Regions from separate parts of the Homo sapiens genome. Here all the other regions are reported to be linked to region 1. The links are microRNA targets in miRTarBase. Many come from high-throughput screens and were not tested one by one. Region 1 holds a microRNA gene; each other region holds the end of a gene's coding sequence.
Evidence for each region. Region 1 holds the annotated microRNA hsa-miR-329-5p (GAGGUUUUCUGGGUUUCUGUUUC, at 5,196-5,218, shown strand). A microRNA usually pairs through its seed, bases 2 to 8, with sites in the 3' UTR of a target mRNA and lowers its output. Matches are read on the target gene's strand: a 7mer-m8 pairs with bases 2 to 8, a 7mer-A1 pairs with bases 2 to 7 and ends in A, and an 8mer does both.

Region 1 (7,192 bases):
CTCAGCTCTGTGGTTTGAGTCTCCAAAGGTGGTCTAGAGCATGGCGAGGACCATCGGAACTTGGGTGAGCTAGGGAAGTTTTTACCTAGAGGTTGAGGGTCCCCTTTTATATGATGAACTGTGCTCTTGGAGTGTCCCATTTGCCATGCAGAACAAAACACTGCCCTTTATCTTGATGAAGAGATAGTTGACCACATAATGGCCAAAGCATGGTCAGTATTGTACATTTTGCCTTGTCGCAGTCTTTCCAAGTTGACATGGCCTTCCTGGAGGAATTACCACTTAGGGTAGAGGCACCCCTTCCCCCATCAATGCCACTGCCCCACATTGGAGGAGGGGTTGTTTATGTTCACCATGTGCCTGCTTCCAATGCCAAATCCAGCCTCAGAAAGCTTTCTGGAAGTGACGCCAACTTCAGGGGCAAGGCCCTGGTTCTGGGGTCAGCACCATTCCGTGGTTCCTGAAGAGATGGTAGACTATGGAACGTAGGCGTTATGATTTCTGACCTATGTAACATGGTCCACTAACTCTCAGTATCCAATCCATCCTCGGAGGGCTTCCTGGAGGTGTTGCCAACTTCAGGGAAGAGAACACGTGGTTTAGCTTCAGCACTGCTCCACGGCAATTTCTGTGGCTCATGGTTGATGTCTGACTTGTGCAACAAGGCCTGGCTCTTCTGGGCACTAAATGCACTCTCTGGGGAGTTTTCTGGAAGTGATGCAACTTGGGCTCAAGACACCGGTTCCAGCCTCAGCCGTGGTTCTGGAAGAGATGATTTGCCATGTGGCCTGTGCGAAAGGAGGGATTTGTGTGAGATGGGCTACCACTTCCCAGTAGCCTGCCAGCTTTGGAGGGCTTCGTGGAGCCAATACTACCTTCAGGGGGACCCACCAGTCCATCCTTCATTCCGCTGTGTGGCATTGAAGAGTTGCTTTCCTGTGTTGAAGTTTTCTGTTTATACCAATGTCCACCTCTGATCAATCTTACATTCAGTCTCAGGGTTTTCCGGAGGCAGTGCCAAGTCTGGGAATGAGACAGTGGTTCTGTCCTTAGGGAGGTGGTTGACCAAAACAACTCCTGCTTTGTTCATGAAGATGGCATGGTGGTTACTGCTCAGAATCTAATCCAACCTAAGAGGACCTCCTGGAAATGCCCTTGGTATTGAGGCAGATATGGCCTTAGGGCACTTTTTTTTTTTTTTTAATGCCCAAGACTAGAGCTCACTAATAGGTAAGATCTGGGCCTCAGGTGCCCAGTACTGTTTCCTTGGCCTGGTTAGTGTAACTAGATGGATGTTCTTTGGTTGCACGTGGGCCATTTTGTATTTCTGATTTTCTCCCCACTCCCCTAACCAGCTCTGTTAGCCATGTGCCATGTCCTCCCTCCCATCTACCCACTCCTTCAGACCCAGCACAGTGCGCCTGGCACACAGCAGGCACTTAATCAGTATTTATGGAGTGATGAAATCCATATCATCGTCCACTTCTTCTCAGTGGGACTTTCGGCCTCGAAGGGCTTCCTGGAGGAGTTGCCAGTTTTGGGGATGAGCCACTGCTTCGAGCATTCATGTCAACCCCCGACCATGAAGACGAGACTCCTGGCCTGTGTGTGCTTGTCGCATGATGCATGTGCTGTGCTCAACCTCCCTTCTGGTTCCACCCAGCTCAAGGCCTTGGAGGGCTTTCTGGATGTGTCCTGAGCCTTTGTCCTCGGCATCTCTGTGTGGTACTTGGAGAGATAGTAGACCGTATAGCGTACGCTTTATCTGTGACGTATGTAACACGGTCCACTAACCCTCAGTATCAAATCCATCCCCGAGGCTCCTGGAAACAACGCTGTCTTCGGGGAGGAACGGTTGGACCCACCACCACTTCTCCATGACACCCGAAGAGATGATTTTCTGTATGGCATGTGTTTTTCTGCATGATGCAAAATGGCATAATCTCGCTCCTCTTAAATCAAGTTCTGCCTTGGGAAATCGCGCCATCCCTGGGGAGGAGACCTTGATTCTTCCCGGAATCAGTGCCATTCCATGGTGCTCAATGACGTGGTTGACTACGCTACGCTTATTCAGTAGACACCGTGACCTGCTTCTTCTCAGCGTCAAATGCAGCCTAGAAGAAGCGCCCTCAGGCAACTTCGTGGACATGAGCCTTCTTCCAGCCACCACCACCACCATCGTGCGGTACTTGAAGAAATGGTTTACCGTCCCACATACATTTTGAATATGTATGTGGGATGGTAAACCGCTTCTTGGTATCCAGCCCAGCCATCCAAACCTCCCTGGAGAAAGCCTGGAGTTAGAGGAGAGCCACGGGTCTCGGCATCCGCCATGCCATGGCACTTGGTGGAATGGTAGACTCTTAGATGTGTGCTTTCTCTGTCAATGCTTGTGATGCGGTCTTCTCCTCAGTGCCAAACACAGCCTCCAGTGACTTCCTCAGGACAAGGATGACCTCCAGGAAGGTGTCCTACTGCCCACGTTGGCACATCCCTCTGGAGTAATTGAAGAAACGGTGGCTGGTGCCGCAAATGTTCATGAACGAGGGATGTGAAACAGGTCACCTCTCATCCTCAGAGCCCTCCTCAGATGACTTCAGGACAGTACGCCCATGTAGGAGCAGATATGGGTCCAGGAGATGATGCCACTCCAGGTACTTGAAGACGCACTGACTCGTTTTTGTCTTTGCTGATGCGTGTACAGTCTATCTTTTTTCCATCTCAAGTCTAGCCATCTCGGGGGAAGATGTCCCAGCTCTGGACTCAGCACTGATCCTCATGAAGAGCTGCTCGACCCCATCGTGTATGTTTACAGAGGAAGTGCCTCCATGGCCCACTTCTTCCCTATCTCCATCCCAGAACCCTTGCTTGGAGAACTTGCTGAAGAAGCTGCCAGCCTCAGGGACAGAGCACTGGTTCTGGCCTCTTCACTGACCTCACGGTACCTGAAAAGGGTTCAGCCACACTGCATGTCTTTTCCCCATGACGTATGTAACATGGTCTACTTCTTTTGAAGTATCCCATTCAGCCTGGAAAGTCTCCAGGGAGGTTATGTTAAGCTTAGGAGACAAAGCACCAGTTCTGGTACAAGTACTGCCTCGGGGTACTTAGTAGAAGTTGGCCATGCTTCATATGTTTTACTTACAACGCATGTTACTTCGTCCACCTTCCTATAACAGCGTGCACCTCGGGGGGCTTTCTGTAGGCAGGAACGAGTGTCAGTCATAGCACTAGTTCCAGCATCATCTCCATTCTTGAGGGGCTCCTTTGTGCTGCGTCCACTGCATCTGCGGCAGACATTGCATGGTGGCCTCTTCTCAATACTACATCAGGCCTCAGAGGGCTTCCTGGAGGTGATGCTAGTGAGAGGAAAGAGACACCGGCTCTGACCTCAGCCCTCTCCAAGGTACCTGAAAAGATGGTTGACCATAGAACATGCGCTATCTCTGTGTCGTATGTAATATGGTCCACATCTTCTCAATATCAAATTCAGTCATAGAGGGCTTCCCAGAGAGAGGCAAAGTCACCTTCGTGGGAGACACACTGATCTGGCTTCAGCGCCATTCCACAGTACTTGGAGAGATGGTAGAGCATAAAGCATATGCATTGTTGAATGACAGATGTAGCATGGTCCACTCATTCTCAGTATCAGCCAGCCCTGGGGCTTCCCGGAGGCCATGCCGACTTGAGAGCCAGGCCTGAGTGGTAGCCAGGGTGCAGTGCAGGTCACCGGGTGGTTGGCTGCAGACCCAGTCCTTTATTTATTACATTGGCCATTTGGTCCACCAGCCAAGAACTCAGTACCGGTCCCACCCTTACAGGGCATCCTGGAGGTGGTAGTGGCATTGGATGTGGGTTTGTGGTCATTGCCACATTGCCGGTGGCTGGTAGTTCATGATGCGCATTGTGAGGCTTTCTGGAGGTGATAGCAGGTGAAAGGAAGAGAGCCAGGGGTCAGCGTCACTTCCTGGTATTTGAAGATGCGGTTGACCATGGTGTGTACGCTTTATTTGTGACGTAGGACACATGGTCTACTTCTTCTCAATATCACATCTCGCCTTGGAAGACTTCCAGGAGGTGATATCAGCTTTGCGGAAGAGCCACTGTCCTGGTGTCAGTACGGCTGCTGCTTGGTACTTGGAGAGAGGTGGTCCGTGGCGCGTTCGCTTTATTTATGGCGCACATTACACGGTCGACCTCTTTGCAGTATCTAATCCCGCCTTGCAAGCTTTCCTGGAGCTAACATCAACTGCGGGGGTGGGGGCCACTAGGTCTGCGCTCAGTGTGACCCAGCGGGGTTTGTGATGTGTTTGTCTTGTGTGTGACGATAACTCACGTGTGGCAGCCTTCTTCTCAGCACACTGCTCTGGCTTGGCAGCAGGGTTAACTTGCGGACAAGGAGCGTGGTGTCAGCACGTGCCTGGATACATGAGATGGTTGACCAGAGAGCACACGCTTTATTTGTGCCGTTTGTGACCTGGTCCACTAACCCTCAGTATCTAATGCCCCCTTGGAGAACTTCCTGGAAGAGGTGTCAACTTTTTGGGAAAGAGACAGTAAACTGGGGCCAGCTGCACTCTGTTAGACTCTGAAGAGAGCATCTGCGAGGCGTTTGCGACATGTATGCCAAATGTGGCTGAGTTGGACTGATTTTCACTCCGATCTCTTTCCTTGGAGGGCTTCCTAGATGTGGAGGCATCCAAGTTCAAGGGAAGGGGCATGCTGTCTATACCATCCCAAAGTCCTCCAGTGATCAGCTGACCTGAGTGTATGCACTTTAATTTACAACCAAGGTCGCCTGGCCCGTCACACCTCAGTCTCCACTGGGTCCTTAGCAGGACCTTTGGTGGAGTCAGCCTTGCTTTGGGGCATCTGTGCCTCTCTTGAGTAACTGAGAAAAGATGGCCCTGGAGGTTAACCCTAAACGCGATAGCTGCTGTGACCAGCCTTTTTATGGCATCACCACCTCTGGCTGTGATGTCAACTTCCAGACGTGATGTGGGGTCTGCTCCACTGGGGTACTTGGATAGATGGTTGGCAAGCAGCATGCATCCAACTCTTGGCTTCTTCCGGCAAATCAACTAACTAACGCTCAGTGTGCAATTCCATATTTAACAGGACTTCCAGCACTGAATGTCAAGTCTGGGGAAGAATCAGTGGTGTTCTTGTCAGTGTTAATCAGTGGTACCTGAAGAGAGGTTTTCTGGGTTTCTGTTTCTTTAATGAGGACGAAACACACCTGGTTAACCTCTTTTCCAGTATCAAATCCCATCTTGGAGGCCTTCTGGTCCAGACCTCAGCTTCAGGGAAGGGCGTTACTCTCAGCTCCAGTCCACTGGACAGAAATCTATGGTTAACCACGAAGCCTGTGCTGTATTATTTTGACTGATGTCATCTGTTCTACTAACCCCAGTGTCCAATCCGTATTTAACAGGACTTCCAGGACTGAATGTCAAGTTTGGGGAAGGAATCAGTGGTGTTCTTGTCAGTGTTACTTGGTGGTACCTGAAGAGAGGTTTTCTGGGTTTCTGTTTCTTTATTGAGGACGAAACACACCTGGTTAACCTCTTTTCCAGTATCAAATCCCATCTTGGAGGCCTTCTGGTCCAGACCTCAGCTTCAGGGAAGGGGTGCTGTGGACATAAATAAGGAGACACGAGCAAATGGCTGATCACTAAGCGTGCCCCATGTTTCTGAATTTTGCCACCGATTGCGCTAACCCTCAATGTCTTATCCCTTCTTAGGAGGACTTTTCAATGTGATGGCAGCCTGGGGGAAGACAGTGTCACCACGACAGTGTCACGGAACATGCAGGTGAGTTGTCTGTGGTTGCCTTCGTTGTGCTCCCAACGGATCGTGTGTGTAATTCAGGCTCTTTCGGCATCTGACCCTGCTGTAGGGGGATGCCTCGTCCTTGCCACACTCAGTGATGGGCTTGAATGAGCCCAGCCCACAGCAGGGGAATGCCAGCATGCCCTGGACAGATAGTGCAGGTGTCCTGCACGCCTGCCCCTAGCCTGCAGTTTATTCTGAAAGGATGTCCTGGATATAATGACACCTTAGGGAAGAAAAGCTGATTCTGAGGTCAAGAGGAGACCTTGGGGGCCCTGGAATTGGCCCAGGTTGAGACCTGTTTATTTCTCACAGGAATTGTGGAGTTGACTTCCTTTAAATCTGGAGGAATCCTTGATGTCATGCCAGCTTGAAGGGAGGGCATTGTCACCAGCCCTGATCCAGGGGAAGGGAGTGGATGGCCCACCACGGGGCATGTACCTCCCCAGGAACACACCTGCTCCACTGACCAGCACATCTGACCTACCCTCAGGGTTGTGTTTCTGCAGATGGTCCTTCTTTGGGGTGCTCAAGGAGAGGTTTCCTTTGGCATATCTGTTTCTTTTATATAAATCATTTCTGTGGACCACTCTTCAGTATCAAACACCAGTTTGGAAGGCTTCCGGATAAGACAGTTGTCAGGCCCAGGCCAGGGTGAGTGGGCCGAGATGGGTGCTTCCCCTGTTCTAAGCGTCCTGTCTGGCAGTAATGCTTGGTGCCCGATCCTTTCCAGGAGGACTTCCTGGAGGTGATGCCAGCCTCTGGGGAAGGAAAAGGCTCCCTGCCAGCTCTAAAGCCAAGGCACAGAAGTAGGTTTTGCTGGTGCTGCATTTGTTTTGATGGCACTTAGCTGTGACTGTGGGTCCTCGGCTCATCTGTGGCATTTGGGGATGGGACTGTGAGGGAGGAGGGCCTCAGGTTCTGGAGAAGGGCCAGGTATTTCCATGTCAACCCTGCTTTTTATAACCAGAGAGAACATATGAGGTAGCACCAATGACCTCCGCCACCAATCCTTCCTATTAGCTGATACCCAAACACCGTTCCTTCCAGCCGAAAAGAGCCCTCATAAAGAGAGGGCAGAGAGAGTGTGTCAAGGCCATGTGACAGCAGGCAGTATGCTGTTGCCTCCGGGGTATCCAGGGTAGGCGGCTGCTGGGTCCATGTAGATTGGGTGCTCTGCTGGCTACGGAGGGGTCAAAGGACAGGTGGCAAGGGTGCAGAGCCGCAGCCTGGCCCTGGGATTTTCTTCTCAGACCTCTGCTCCGGGGTCCACCTTCGGGGGAAAAGAGGGCACAATTTTACAACTTTGTAAGAGGAAACCTGAAGTTTTCTGACCCCTGATTCTCCCCAGCCCTGTCAG
Region 2 (7,192 bases), not on the chromosome of region 1:
AACCTGGAGGGCACAGGTTGCAGTGAGCCGAGATTGCGCCACTGCACTCCAGCCTTAGCGACAGAGTGAGATTTTGTGTGAAAAATAAATAAATAAATAAAGTAAATAAGTAAATAAAATAAAATAAATTCTCAGAGGCGTGGGGAAAGAGCAATTCCATGGCAGCAAGATTTTGTAAAAGAAACAAAAGGGAGGCAGCTCAGGTAGGCAGCCTGCCTCACCCACAGCTCACAAGGAAACCCACACTCCAATAGTTACACATTCCCAAGCTTAGGAACCACTGGGACTGTGGAGACACAGGCCAGGCTGGCCCACTCTTAGGTAGTGTGTGAGGGAAATGTGAGCAGCCAGAAAATTACTTCTGGGACTTCCACACACACCCTGCTGGCCCCTCCCCACAGTGTGGACACAGTCCTTCCACCGGGGTCTCAATGCCCACCAAAGACCACTCGCTCACTGTGAGTCAGTGGAAGGTTCTGACCTATGCTGTCTTTTTTTCTGACACCAAATGTGTGGTGCTTGCTGAACACCAGCGAATTCTCCAGCACTAAGCAGTCATGCAACCACTCAATTCAGAAGCCACCCAGAGTTAGCAGAGACTCCATGAGTTCCTGGCTCACCCAACACAGCCCCACTCAGCAGATGCCACTCAAAGCCCCAGGGGCCACCTGTACTTCTCAGCAACTGCATCTAGACCTGGGTCCTGTACAACAGCCTCCTCAAGTTCCATAATTTGATAGAACTACCCACAGTTCACTTACATTTACCAACTTATTATGAAGGATACAACTCAGGAGCAGCCAAATCAAAGAGAGTAAGGGGTGTGAAAAGGAGATGGGGGTGGGTGGGTCATCCTGAAAAGAGGTGTGATTCAAGAAATCCCCCATCCTTTGTGTTGTGCAAGAGCACCTTACTACAACAAAACACCCTTCCCCTTATGACTTAGATGATGCCACGTTTGTTACCTATGACAAACCAGACACAGACTAGAAATTCCAGTATTCACCTCACAAACCATTAGGTGAATAGCTTTGTCTTTAGTGATCAGTCAAAATGAAATATCTATTAATCAAAGCATGCTTCAGTTTCTCTCCTTCCTCCAGGTCCCTGAACTTTTTTTTTTTTTTTTTTTTTTTTTCTTTTTTTGAGACAGAGTCTTGTTCTGTAGCCCAGGCTGGAGTGCAGTAGCATGATCTTGGCTCACTGCAACCTCTGCCTCCCTGGTTCAAGTGATTCTCATGCCTCATTCTCCGGAGTAGCTGGGGTTGCAGGTGTGTGCCATCATGCCCAGCTAATTTTTGTATTTTTTTATAGAGATGGTGTTTCACTATGCTGGGTGTTTCACCCATGTTTCAAGGGTGGTCTTGAACTCCTGGCCTCAAGTGATCTGCCCAAAGTGCTGGAATTACAGGTATGAGCCACCACGCCCAGCAGCCCCTGAATTTTTGACTGACTCCTTCTAAGCCTATATACAACCCCATTTTAGGTATTTAATCTTTTTATTTTTACTTACAAGTCCAGTACCTAGACTTTTTTTTTTTAAATGACCTCTTTTAATGACAAGCTGACTTCAAGGTCTAGAATTAAAAGTTATTTCTTACCTAAACCCACATTTGTTTCACTAGAAGTGTCTAGAAAAAGCCCCATGACAAAAATTATCACTTGCGCACGGCATCACTGACTACTGCATCTGCCTGTGGATCCCCAGCTTTCCAGGATTCTGAGATTCTTTTATTATAAAGGGCTCCTCCCATGGTCAACGTGAGTAGCTGGTACACCTGCAGTGGGGGCACCATGGGAAGAACCAAGTGAGAGCTTTTTTTTTTTTTCTTTTTTTTGGAGACAGAGTCTCGCTCTGTCACCTAGGCTGAAGTGCAGTGGCACGATCTTGGTGCACTGTAACCTCTGCCTCCAGAGTTTAAGCGATTATCGTGCCTCAGCCTCCTGAATGGCTGGGAACTGCAGGCATGAGCCACTATACCTGGCTAATTTTGGTGTTTTTAGTAGAGATGGGTTTTGCTGTGTTGGCCAGGTTGGTCTCGAACTCCCGACCTCAGATGATCTGCCCGACTCAGCTTCCCAAAGTGCTGGGATTACAGGTGTGAGTCACCGCCTGACGTGAGCTTTCAATAACCTCTCTTTGTAGGCTTCTCATTGTCCTTAGCTTGCAGTCACTGGACTCTGGCCTCTGTTTCAATGAGAAAATACCCAGCGTTTGAAGAATCCAGCAAAATCTCTCAAACTCGGTTTATGTTTATAGGCTAGAAGGAAATTATAAGGTACTTACCTTTCATCCCTCATGAGGGAAAGTAAAAGTATCTAACCCTTTCAGTCAATAAACATATTGAGAAATGTGTTTACACTACCATGTAATAGCTCCTTTCCTGTGAATATCAAAAAGATTAATTATCTTTGTTGTTCTTGGGCTGTAAATGATTAGAAAAGAGTGGGAAGTGACAGAGGTAGGATCCTTTTGAGACCACTACCCCTCCTTACAAAAAGTTAAGGCAATCATCATTGAAATTTGGTAGCTGCAACCAACCAAATCACTGAAATGTGTGCACTGGCCTTGTATGGAAAATGTCACCCTGTTAAGCGTCTACATTTTGCCCTACAGAAGTGAAGACTCAACTTCCCCGTGTTGGAGCACTGACCCCACTCTTCAGGATATCTGTTTCCCCAGTGGCTATCCTCAAACTTTGTGCTCAGAAATACTCAATATTTAATCATCTTCTCTGAATCTTGTTATCTTATTAAGGTGGACAATATTATTTCATTATGATTTCCATGATAACAAAGCCCATACTACATATTAATCACATGTGAACACAAACATATGACAACAGTTGCCAGCCAGGTGTTACCTCACAAATAATAGGAAGAGAAGAGTTATCCACTGTTACAAGTTCTCCAACTTGCAAAGGAGGACTGATATTTTGCTAAATCTTTGTAATTCACCAATTTATCTACTATACTTTGTTGTGGAAGTTTATTCATTTTTCTCAAGCTGTAAGAAAAGATTTTCCCTATTTCTTTTCCCAAAGCTAAACCCACCAACATCACTGACTTCCAAAATTAGTGGCCTTCCTGGCATACGAAGATCCTTTGGGCCTGTGCTCCAGTGTCCTCTTTGGGGTGCTCCTTGGGCTCTTTGTGAAGCATCAAGACACCCCAATATCTAGCCTAATGTCAGGCTCTCCAGTGTGTCCTGTTCATCACCCTCACCCTGCACTTCTATTGTCACTGTCATTGGCTATTCCAACACTGTGCTTGCATCCTGTGGAAAGTCACATTTGGGGTCAAGTGAATGGTGTTGTTTCTACTCTTTGGTGAAAAGTATCAGGGTGCATTTGGCCTTCAATTCAGAAGGATGAGGCAGGGGTTGGATTCAGGTGCACCCAACTTTTTTTGTGTGTGTGTGATGGAGTCTCGCTCTGTCGACTAGCCTGGAGAGAGCAATGGTGTGATCTCAGTTTACTGTAACCTCCACCTCCCAAGCTCAAGCGATTCTCCTGCCTCAGCCTCCTGAGTAGCTGGGATTACAGGCACACACCATGATGCCCAGCTATTTTTTTGTATTTTTAGACGAGACAGGGTTTCACCATGTTGGCCAGGCTGGTCTTGAACTGCTGACCTCAAGTGATCCACCTGCCTCGGCCTCCCAAAGTGCTGGGATTACAGGTGTGAGCCACCATGCCTGGCCAGGTTTCACTGCCCTGTCTTCCCTGTTCTGAGTTACTTTGTGTGATCCGACAATCAATGACTCCTCCCTTCACTGATGTGGATACATTATCTGGGACTGGGTGTGTCACCTCCACACACAGACAGGGCTTGGTCAGTGATTGATTCTGCATCCTGTGGTGCCTAGATTTAGACTATAAGGATTTTAAATAACTGTTTCTGAAGAGCAGCTTCACTGGACCTTACAGGAAGTGACAGAATTGTTCTAGCCATTGCATTATATATAAAAGTGACTTTTCCATGTTACCGTTAACTTTACACTGCTGAGATAAGCAGGCTGTTGACAAGTTAGCATCAACAGCACATTATCAGAGGAAGAAAGGCTTTTATTTAGACAATTTACACAAATTTATTAGCCTCCTATGACTCAGTAAAGCAATTTGAAAAAAATATAGCTTTATAAAGCGTAAATGAATTTATATATTTTAACTAAGGTACCTTCTAGTTAACAGTGCCCATACATTTTAGAAAATGTTTTAGTCTTTACAGAATAAGTAAGGCAAAAACAGGTCCAGAAGTCTATAGCTGACCTCCCCTCACCACAAGGCCAAGTTGTTTTTGTTTTTGTTTTTGTTTTTTCAGAAAGAGTTTCGCTCTTGTTGACTAGGCTGGAGTGCAATGATGGGATCTCGGCTCACTGCAACCTCTGCCTGCCAGATTCAAGTGATTCTCCTTTCTCAGCCTCCTGACTAGCTAGGATTACAGAAGCATGCCACCATGGCTGACTAAGTTTTGTATTTTTAGATGAGACAGGGTTTCATCATATTGGTCAGGGTGTTCTCGAACTCCTGACCTCAGGTGATCTGCCTGCCTCAGCCTCCCAATGTGCTGGGTTTTCAGGTGTGAGCCACCACACCCAGCCAAGGCCAAGTCTTTTACTGTTGGAGAGACACATGTTACATATCAGGCATATGAGATGATGCTCCTCAGTGATCATGATGGACCAGGACAAAAACAAGGGCATTTTGTAACTGTATTTCTAAAACTGATAGAAGTAAACATATTTCAAATCATAAACATGACGAAAATTTTTATCTTCTTACCAATGTGACTTGTAATTCTCATACATCCCACAGTCATTTATGTCTTCTGGTCATATTTATCACTATGGTATATTACACCCTTGCTGACAGCAGGTATGGCGCTGCTGGTTTTGGGCAAGAAGGTACTCAGAGATACATGAGATAACTTTTGGTATTATGAGTGAAAGAAAAATTAGGGTTGAGGCTGGGCGCAGTGGCTCATGTCTGTAAATCCAGCACTTTGAGAGGCCGAGGCAGGAGGATCACAAGGTCCAGAGTTCGAGACCAGCCTGGCCAATATGGTGAAACCCCGTCTCTACTAAATAATACACATAATTAGCTGGGTGAAGTGGTGCATGCCTGTAGTCCCAGCTACTCAAAAGGCTGAAGAAGGAGAATTGTTCAAACCTGGGAAGCAGAGATTGCAGTGAGCCAAGATCACACCACTGCACTCCAGCCTGGGCAACAGAGTGAGGCTCTTTCTAAAAAAAAAAAAAAAAAAAAAAGAAAAAGAAAAAGCAAAAGGAAAAAAAAAGAAAAATTACAGTTGAAATAAAAATTAAAGTACATAAGCATGAAAAGTAAAGTTTACATGAGGAAAAATATGCCTGGCATTTAATCCAGGTAATGCTGATTCACAATATCCAAATAATAACAATGTAACATTATAAGCTTGATCTAATACATGACACCAATGGATATTTTATTATAGCTTCTTAATTATTTAAAAAGAATAACATTTGTTAGTATACAGTTATTATAAACAGTTAATTGTTTACATTCATTATTTGTATTCAAAGAATCCTAGCCGATCTGAAGGCTTTCCCATACTGCTTACATTCATAGAGTTTCTGCCAAGTGTGAGTGCTTCCATGCATTTGAAGTCTTGAGGCTGATCTGACGGCTTTCCCACATTGCTTACATTGATACGGTTTCTCCCCAGTGTGAGTCCTTTCATGATATTGAAAAGAACTGGAAGAAGTGAAAGCTTTTGCCACATTGCTTACATTCATAGGGTTTCCTTCTGGTGTGTCTTTACATGTCTATGAAAGCAATTAAGCAAGCTGAATGCTTTCCCACAATCCTTACATTCATACGGATTCTCTCTCGTATGAGTCCTTTCATGTATATGCAAGGAAGAAAAATAATTGAATGCTTGTTTGCATTCCTTACATTCATAGGTTTCTCTCCAGTGTGTGTTTTGCATGTATTCAAACGATCTTGGCAGATATGAATGCTTTCCCACAATGCTTACATTCTTAGGGCGCCTCTCCTCTGTGCAACTTTCATGTATTTGAAAAGAAGAGAAATTATGGAACGCTTTTCCACATTTCTTACATTCATAGGGTTTCTCTCCAGTGTGTGTCCTTTCATAAATTGAAAGGTTCTTGACAGATCTGAAGACTTTCCCACATTGCTTACACTCATAGAGTTTTTCTCCACTGTGAGTCCTTTTAGATATCGAAAGGAACTGGAACAATTAAGGCTTTACCACATTGCTTGCATTTATAGGGTTTCTCTCCAGTGTGAATTTTTTCATGTGTTTGAAATAACTTGGCAGAATAAAAGTGTTTCCCATATATCTTATATTTATAAGGTCTTTCTCCAGAGTGCATTCTTATGTGTTTGTGTCCTTTCATGAAATCGAAAGTTCTGGACATATCTGAAGGCTTTCCCACATTTCTTACATTCATAGGGTTTCTCTCCAGTGTGAATCCTACGATGGATTCGAAGTTGTGAGGCAGATCTGAAAGCTTTCCCACATTCCTTACATTGATACGGTTTCTCTCCAGTGTGAGTCCTACCATGCAATTGAAGATTTGGGGCAGATCTGAAGGCTTTCCCACATTGCTTACACTCATAGGGTTTCTCTCCAGTGTGAGTCCTTTCATGATATCGAAAGGAACCGGAACGAGTGAAGGCTTTACCACATTGCTTGCATTTATACGGTTTCTCTCCACTGTGAGTTTTTTCATGTCTTTGAAATGACTTGGCAGAATAAAAGCCTTTCCCACATGTCTTACATTCATAAGGTCTTTCTCCAGAGTGCATTCTTATGTGTGTTTGAAAACTTGTAAGAGAGGATAATGCTTTCCCACACTGCTTACATTCATAAAGTTTTTTCCTAGAGTGGGTCCTTTCATGTCTACGAACATAACGGGGACACATGAATGCTTTTCCACATTCCTTACATTGATAAGCCTTCTCTCCCATGTGACTCCTTTCATGTCTGTGACAGGATCTGGGACTATGGAATGCTTTCCCACATTCCTGACATTCATAAGGCTTTTCTCCAATGTGAGTTCTTTCATGTATTCGATGGGTAGCAGAATAACTAAAAGATTTACCACATTGTTTACATTCATACGGTTTCTCTCCAGTGTGAGTTCTTTCATGGATAAGATATAAACTGAGACAATGGAATGCTT
Region 3 (7,192 bases), not on the chromosome of region 1:
TGATAAAGCTTACGGGAGAAAAGGTACTGATTTGGAGACAGGACTTCTGTTTGCCTTTCATTGGTTGGTTTTGTAGGAGGGAAGGGTGTGGAATGGATCCTGGTGCACTGTGAGTGTGGCGGGCGGGCATCGCTCGGCTTTGAGAATGGGAAGAGGAATCTCAACACTGGCTGGAGTCCTCTTTAAACCCTCAGCCGTGGCACGAAGGTGGCTTCTGTCCGTGGCAGGATCCAGAACAGCTGCTTCTGAGGGTTGGGGCAGGGTGAGGAGCCCCACACATGCTGTGTCTTGGGTAGGGAAGGGGCAGAGTGACGAAGCTCTTCCAACCTGGGTAATGTCACTTCTTGCTCAGAGCATGTTTTTATTCAGACTTCGAGACCAAACATGACATCTTTGTTCCTCAGACGAGGGCATGGGTTTAGAAAGAACTGAACTCTTTGGCTGTGGTTTAGGGTTTAGCTAAGAGGGCATCGCTGGGGGTTCCATGCTGACCGACCACACATGGGCGTCGAGCCGTCCTCCTCTTGTCCTTCTCTTCACCACAAGGTGGCACTCAAAATTGTTGACTAATTATGAGTAGACTAGTTGGTAAATGACACTCTTGAAGTGAAGCCACAGGGGACCTGGGAACCTGCACTCGTGCTGACCCCCGTGTCTGCCTGGTAGTTCTGACCTGGGATGGCAAGATGTCGGCGGTCAGTCAGGATGCTATTGAAGACAGCAGACAGGCCCGGACTGAGACCGTGGTTGATGACTGGGACGAAGAGTTTGACCGAGGGAAGGTATGATGTGTGATGCTGACCACAGGCTTGAGGGAGCAGGGCGGCGTGGCTCAGCTCAGAGCCGGGGCAGTTGGAGGTGGCGGCAGTGGCATGAAGCGGCCGAGCATGAGAAGAGCCAGGCTGCCCAGGCCTGTCCGGGCGTGTGGCCATGGACAGGGCATGCATCCTCGCAGCTTCCGCCCCTTTGTCAATAGGGGGACTGCAGGTCGCCGTGCACAGGGGTCATTGTGAAGAGTGGGTCTCCAGAGAGCTCATGAGAGCCCGGCCTGTGTGCAGGACCTGCATGCAGCATGGAGCCCCGTGGGCCAGGAAAGAGCCGTTTTTGGGAACTGTGATGCCTGTGATTCTTGGTCTAGGAAAAGAAAATTAAAAAATTTAAGAGAGAGAAGAGGAGAAACTTCAACGCCTTCCAGAAACTTCAGACTCGACGGAACTTCTGGTCTGTGACTCACCCAGCAAAGGCTGCCAGCCTCAGCTATCGCCGCTGACTGTGCCCCTGTGGAAGGAGGTCGGTTCCGAGGGGGTGGGTGTAAGGGTGAGGTGGGGGTGTGTGTGCCGTGTATGTGTGTAGGGGTGTGGTGGGGTGTGGCGTGTGTGTATGATGTATGTGGGCTGTGTATCTGGCACATGTGTGTTGGGTGGTGTGTGTGGTGTGGGCGCGTCTGTGGTGTGTGTCCTAGTCACTTGGAGAAGGGTGTGTGTGGGATGCGTGTGTATAAGGGGGTGTGTGTGGGATGCGTGTGTATAAGGGGGTGTGTGTAGTGTGTGTTGGGTGTGGGGTGTGTACACCTGGCATCTGTGGCATGTGTTCTGGTCACTTGGAGAAGGGCATGTGTGGGGTGTGTGTGGGATGTGGGTTGTGTGTATATCTGGCATGTGTCCCAGTCACTTGCAGAAGGGTGACTTCTTGCCAGCCGCATCGAGATGCCATGCATTGGGTTCCTAGGTTGGACTCATACCCGAGGGTGGCAGTGGGAAGATTCGGGTCTCGTTTCTCTCTGTCAGGACTACCGTGGTTTGTTCTGCAGCCTCCTGGAGACAAGGCGTCCCTTCCCGGGAGCTGTCGGTCTGGATCTGAGGGAGCTCTCTGTGTGGGCTCTGCTGCGCTGGGAGCCTGTCACGGTAGGAGCTCTCCCGGTACCAGTGTCCACAGACCGCCCAACACAGAGGCTTTGAGGCTTCTCTAGATCGGAACCTCTTTGGTGACATTCCCGACCAGCCCTGCAAGAGAAACGACAGTGTGTGTGTGAGCAGAGGTGGCCGCACACCTGCTGGACATCTTTGCCAGGCTGTGCCTTCTCATGTTTCATAGACAGTGGTCTGTGCTGGCAGAGGCTGCTGCCCCTGGTTGGGGCTATCAGGAGAGTGGGGGATGGTGGCCACATGTCCCCCAGGTGGTCTCCCGGTGCATAGCTGGTGGCTCTGGGCAAGCCATCCCTTGCTTCTCGGGGCTGACGCCACCGTTGTGTCCGAGCCCGCCCTCCCCTGCTTCCTCAGCGGGACCCCTTCATCTGTTGGCCTTACCTGTCCTCAGAAAGGAAGAGGTGACCCCACCCAGCCACCTCTCCCTTTTATGGAACTCGAGAGGGTGGCCCTACTGTGCACCCCTTCCTTGTGAGTAGCTCTCAACTGTCCTGGAGAGCAGAGGCTATTTGGGGTCGGAGGAGCCCTCGATACCTGCGAATACATCTGCTTTCCAGGCTGCTGTTTATTCTGAGACGACTGTGCTGTAGCTTCCCTTGCAGCTGCAATAACCCGCAGGTCTTCACTGAGGTGGAGGCTTTGGGGTAGAATTCTCCATTTATTTTACTACTTAATACAAAACATTTATTTTTGACCAGTCCTGTGGCTTCCATTAGCAATATGTTTCCTTTCCCAAATATGCAAATAGTGGCTTTGTTTGCTCAATTTTGTGAGTGCTTTGGAATTTAAATGATTGTATAACTCAAGAAGATTACTTTTCTATGTTGCTCAAGCTGTGCCTGCCAACTTGTAACTTAATAAATACAGGAAATCCTCAGAGAAGGTGATATTTTCAGGAAAAAGACAAATGCCCTCATAGTAGTGGGAAGTGTGAAGGTGACCGTGAACATCCTTCCTCATCGGGTCTGTCCCCGTCATTTCCTCCCGGAGTCGTCGCAGGTGGAGATGGACAACGTGGTGTTGGACTTAGACCTCCTTCAGTGTGGCTCTGCTGGGCCAGAGGCATCCTGCTGTCCCGGGTGGCTGCCTCGCTGTCTGCACCCCCTCTCCCTGGGGCAGCTTTGCTTCCTGCCCCTGTGCTCGGGGCCTGGGTGGTTACTGGCGTGTAGATGGAATTGCTTTTTTAATATGGGAAGATACATTTATTTTTTTCCATGTGGGTGGGTGTCTCTTTTTGGATTTTCTTCTGTTTTTACGTTTCTCTTCTTAGAAGGGTGGGAGAGAATCAAGCTCCTGTGGCCACCTGTGTCCCAGCAGCAGTGAGTGGAGCTGCTCAGGGTGCCCTCTCCTGCGGACCAGTCTCTGAATGTTCAAAGATGAGGGCCTGGCTTCCGTGCTCTGGCTTTGTAACTTATCTGGAAGGGAAAGCACATGCCTTCACGGGCAGGGTATGTTCCTTTTCTTCTCGGGGTGTTGACTTGCATTCCTGTGTGAACTGTTCCCTCTGCCATGTTTACCGTGTGATGTTCTGTAGTTGAAAATGTTAGTTGTCTGCTGGCACAGAATTTATCTCGTTCCTTTCTCTCCCTTCTCTCCTCCAAATCAGTCTCTTCCCTTCTCCACTAGATAACTGTAAAACCTTTTCCTGGGGTACATACATTCGTTAACTCTTGGGCAGTGGTGAGCACGAGATGACTTTCTGCAGCGTTTATCACTGTTGGGTGGAGTCACGTCCCTTCCCTCCACCGAAGTCATCAACCAGATAGGGAAGGGAAAGATGAGGCCCAGAAAACGAGTTCAAACTCTAGGTCTTGTACACGTATGTAAGTAAATGTCAATAACCCAAGCCTTTGTCATAGCAGTCACTTGGTTGACTTAGGATCTGGGTCTGTTGAATTTTGTGCTTGGGAATGGAGCTGGAGGGAGTGGGGCCTGTGTACAGCAGCTACCTCTCCCAGGTCCTCTCACTTGCCTGCCCCGCGTCCTGGTTGCATGGCCGCACCTGTGTGTGTGCAGAGGTCTGTGTCCCATCCTCTGCACCTCCTTTCCGGGGGCCTGGGGAGCCCCACGTGTTGCCAAGATCTTGGTGCAATAAAATACTCCGGTTTTGTGAGTTCTGTGTCTTTGTTGGTTTCATTTGATTTTTTTTTTTTAAAGTACATCCCAACCACAGTCTCGCTGATTCCACCTGTCCTGGAAGTTGAGGCTGGGCTAGGAGGGGCAGGTAGGTCCCTGCAGGGAGCTCAGTGACCAGGAGGTTATGAGAGCAGCCCTAGTGAATAGGTGACCAAGAGGCTGAATGAACCCCGGGGCGCAGGCGGGTTGCCGTGCAGCGGCTCCTGTTGAGAATGCTGCTCTGCAGCTGTTACCTGATGTGTGTGGCTCCCCGCATCTCCCTTTAGCAACTTGGAAGTAAGCTTTCTCCACCCCACGGTATCCACCAAACACAGGGCATCATGTCTTCGCTTCTCTTTAGGGGTTTGGCTGGACACCCCAAAATGAGGACAGCCAAGTAAGAACAAGCGAGGTGAGGCAGCTCCTGCATCCAAACCAAAGGGGTGGCAGAGAGCAGGGCACACTGCTGACCCAGAGGCCTTCCTGCCAGCCAGGCTGTGTCTGAAGGCATTTGCGTTGTAGCCTGGGCAGCGGTTGAGGGGGTTCTGAGGCTTGGAGAGGTGGTGATCTGACACCAACGCTGGGTGCAGTGGCGACATGGGCGAGGCTGTGGTTTTTACTTTTTTTTTTTTTTTTTTTTCCCGAACAGAGTCTCCCTCTGTCGCCCAGGCTGGAGTGCAGTGGCACGATTCTCCGCTCACTGCAACCTCTGCCTCCCGGGTTCAAGCAATTCTCCTGCCTCAGCCTCCCAAGAAGCTGGGAGTACAGGCACGCATCACCACGCCTGACTAATTTTTGTATTTTTAGTAGAGATGGGGTTCCACCATGTTGGCCAGGCTGGTCTCTTAACTCCTGACCTTGTGATCCGCTTGCCTCAGCCTCCCAAAGTGCTGGGATTCCAGGCGTGAGCCACTGCGCCTGGCTGATCTCCATCTCTTGACCTCGTGATCTGCCCGTCTTGGCCTCCCAAAGTGCTGGGATTCCAAGTGTGAGCCACCGCGCCTGACAGGCTTTTCCATTCTTAACTGCCGTTTCCCAAACACTAGGGCCACTTCTGGGTGTGTATAAAAGTGAACACACTCACGTCGTCTCGCAGGCGGCGGGCAGAGTCCCACCGGCAGGACTGACGGCTCCAGGGCAGGGTGAGTGCTGTTAGGGAGATGCAGGGAGGCCATGAGGAGCCTGTCATGAGCTCTGCCTGAAGCACCGTGGGGTGAGGTGACATTCTGAAAGGGGGCTGGCAGTGGGAGCTGGCCAGCAGGACTCAGCTGGCTAACTGTAAGTCAGGTGCAAAAGCGCAGGGCAGGTTTTGTTTGACAGTTTGGACAAGAAGGGTTACCAAGGTCTGATGTGCTTTTTAGACTCCTGAGGCTGATAGTGGATTCCAGGCTGCCTGATGGCCTGAAAGGCGGCTGGTGGAGTGCAGAGAACAGCAGGTGAGCATGACCAGCCGCCAGGTTGGCTGAGAAGTGGCCAAGGCTAGAGCTAAGAGATTGGCATTAGTAGCATAGGCTAGAAGTGAGGTCACTTGGATATTTAGGAGATGGACTCAAGAGGTGAGATGACAGATAGGGTGGAATGTTCTGGGTGGAGTTTAAGATGATTTCTGCTAGGGTGGTTAGTTGGGTTCGGAGGCCAAGTAGTAGCCAGGGAAGCAAGCGGCTCACCGATGGTTTCAGGAAGGCCTTCAGGTGGTGAGAGATTCAATCTGACTTAGTGGACGTGTTGGCATCTTACCAGTACAGGGAACCCAGGGAGAATCCTAGGCATGGGAAGTAGGCAGTGGGTGAACTCCGAGTCTTCTAGTTAGGAAAAAGCCCAGGTGTCTGGACACTGGGGAATCAGGTGGGCATCTGTTTATCCCTAACATACTGTTAGGGCTCATCATAACTGTAATAGTGACCTTAAGGGCAGTTTAACACTGGACGGTGCTGTGAGAATCCCTGCCTCAAGTCTTGGTAGCTTGGACAACCTCAGCGCAATGAGGATGTGGGTACGCCAAGGACGTGGTGGTAAAGGAGGACTGTGTGTGGACAGGTCACGTGACATGCAGACGGGCAGCTTTCTGTGTCTTGTCAGCTGAGCTGACTCCCTGGAGTCACACTCTTGCCCGGAGGTGGCCCTGCTGCTGCTTCGTGCAGATCCCGCCTTGGCTTGGCCCCCTGCTCCTTCCATATCTGGACTGGGGATGACCCTTGGAGAAGATCATCTGGGTGCCATGGATTCGGCTTTCAGGGCTGTCTGGCTGCCCTTCTTCGTTGGGCTCTGCCTGCCTTTTGGGATTTCTGCCCTTGGTCTTCAGGCAACTCCTTCCTCTCTCTCCCATTCTTTTCAGTGATCCCTGCACACTATTTTGCTCTCTCATTGCATATGTGCCCACTACTCTTGGTAAGTGACTTCCAAGGCTACCTCAAGAATTCCCATCCCACCCCAAAATTAAACAACATGGGGAAACCAAAGCTAAAACCAGCTCCTCTCCCTCTGTTCTCTTCTCCTTCTTACCTCAGGGTTCTCAATGCTCATAGGGCAGCAGGAGCACCTGGGGAGAGGCATTCGATACTGACGGAAGTAGAATCAGAATCTATGGGTGAGGCTTAGGCATCAGCATTTAAAGCCTTCCTGGGGGGGTGAGGGGGGCGGGCGCGGTGGCTCACACCTGTAATCCCAGCACTTTGGGAGGCTGAGGCGGGCGGATCACTTGAGGTCAGAAGTTCGAGACCAGCCTGACCAACATGGTGAAACCCTGTCTCTACTAAAAATACAAAAATTAGCTGGGCTTGGCCTGTGCCTGTAATCCCAACTACTTGGGAGGCTGAGGCAGGAGAACTGCTTGAACCTGGGAGGTGGAGGTTGCAGTGAGCCAAGATCATGCCACTGCACTCCAGCCTGGGCGACAGAGTGAGACTCTGTCTCAAAAACAACGACAACAAAAAAAACCTTCCCGGGGGGATCATAGTGAGCAGCAGAGTTGAGAGTTGCCATCCTGGTCCCTGGTCTCAAACTCAAGTGAGCACCAGAATTGCCAGGGGCTCCTTAAAACACCAGTTGCCGGGCTCCTTCCCCCGCATTCTGATTCAGCAGGTCTGGGATGAGGCCTGAGAATGTGCATGTCCAATAGTCCCCGGGGCTGCTGCTGGGCAGACCCACTGTTC

Region 2: the mRNA of ZNF439 is a reported target of hsa-miR-329-5p. Seed matches in the 3' UTR shown: 7mer-A1 at 5,942-5,948.
Region 3: miRTarBase lists USP36 as a target of hsa-miR-329-5p. Seed matches in the 3' UTR shown: 7mer-m8 at 3,560-3,566.

Annotation. Positions count from the first base shown.
Region 1 is chr14:101,021,602-101,028,793 of GRCh38, forward strand. MIR329-1 (microRNA 329-1) reads left to right here and starts at 5,184; the gene lies at 5,184-5,263. It overlaps LOC124903407 (mucin-2-like), which reads left to right. Exons shown (of 5, transcript XM_047432049.1): 5 at 1-7,192. It overlaps MIR379 (microRNA 379), which reads left to right and starts at 465; the gene lies at 465-531. MIR411 (microRNA 411) reads left to right here and starts at 1,724; the gene lies at 1,724-1,819. It also overlaps MIR299, MIR380, MIR1197, MIR323A, MIR758 and MIR329-2.
Region 2 is chr19:11,867,731-11,874,922 of GRCh38, reverse strand. It overlaps ZNF439 (zinc finger protein 439), which reads right to left. Exons shown (of 4, transcript NM_001348719.2): 4 at 5,437-7,192. The coding sequence ends at 6,354. It also overlaps the pseudogene VN2R14P. Among named protein-coding and RNA genes, the nearest start is that of ZNF69, 16 kb to the left of the region's middle. RefSeq lists an enhancer at 2,035-2,329.
Region 3 is chr17:78,792,498-78,799,689 of GRCh38, reverse strand. USP36 (ubiquitin specific peptidase 36) reads left to right here. Exons shown (of 21, transcript NM_001385174.1): 18 at 1-23; 19 at 667-782; 20 at 1,139-1,290; 21 at 1,811-4,038. The coding sequence ends at 1,270. Among named protein-coding and RNA genes, the nearest start is that of CYTH1, 14 kb to the right of the region's middle.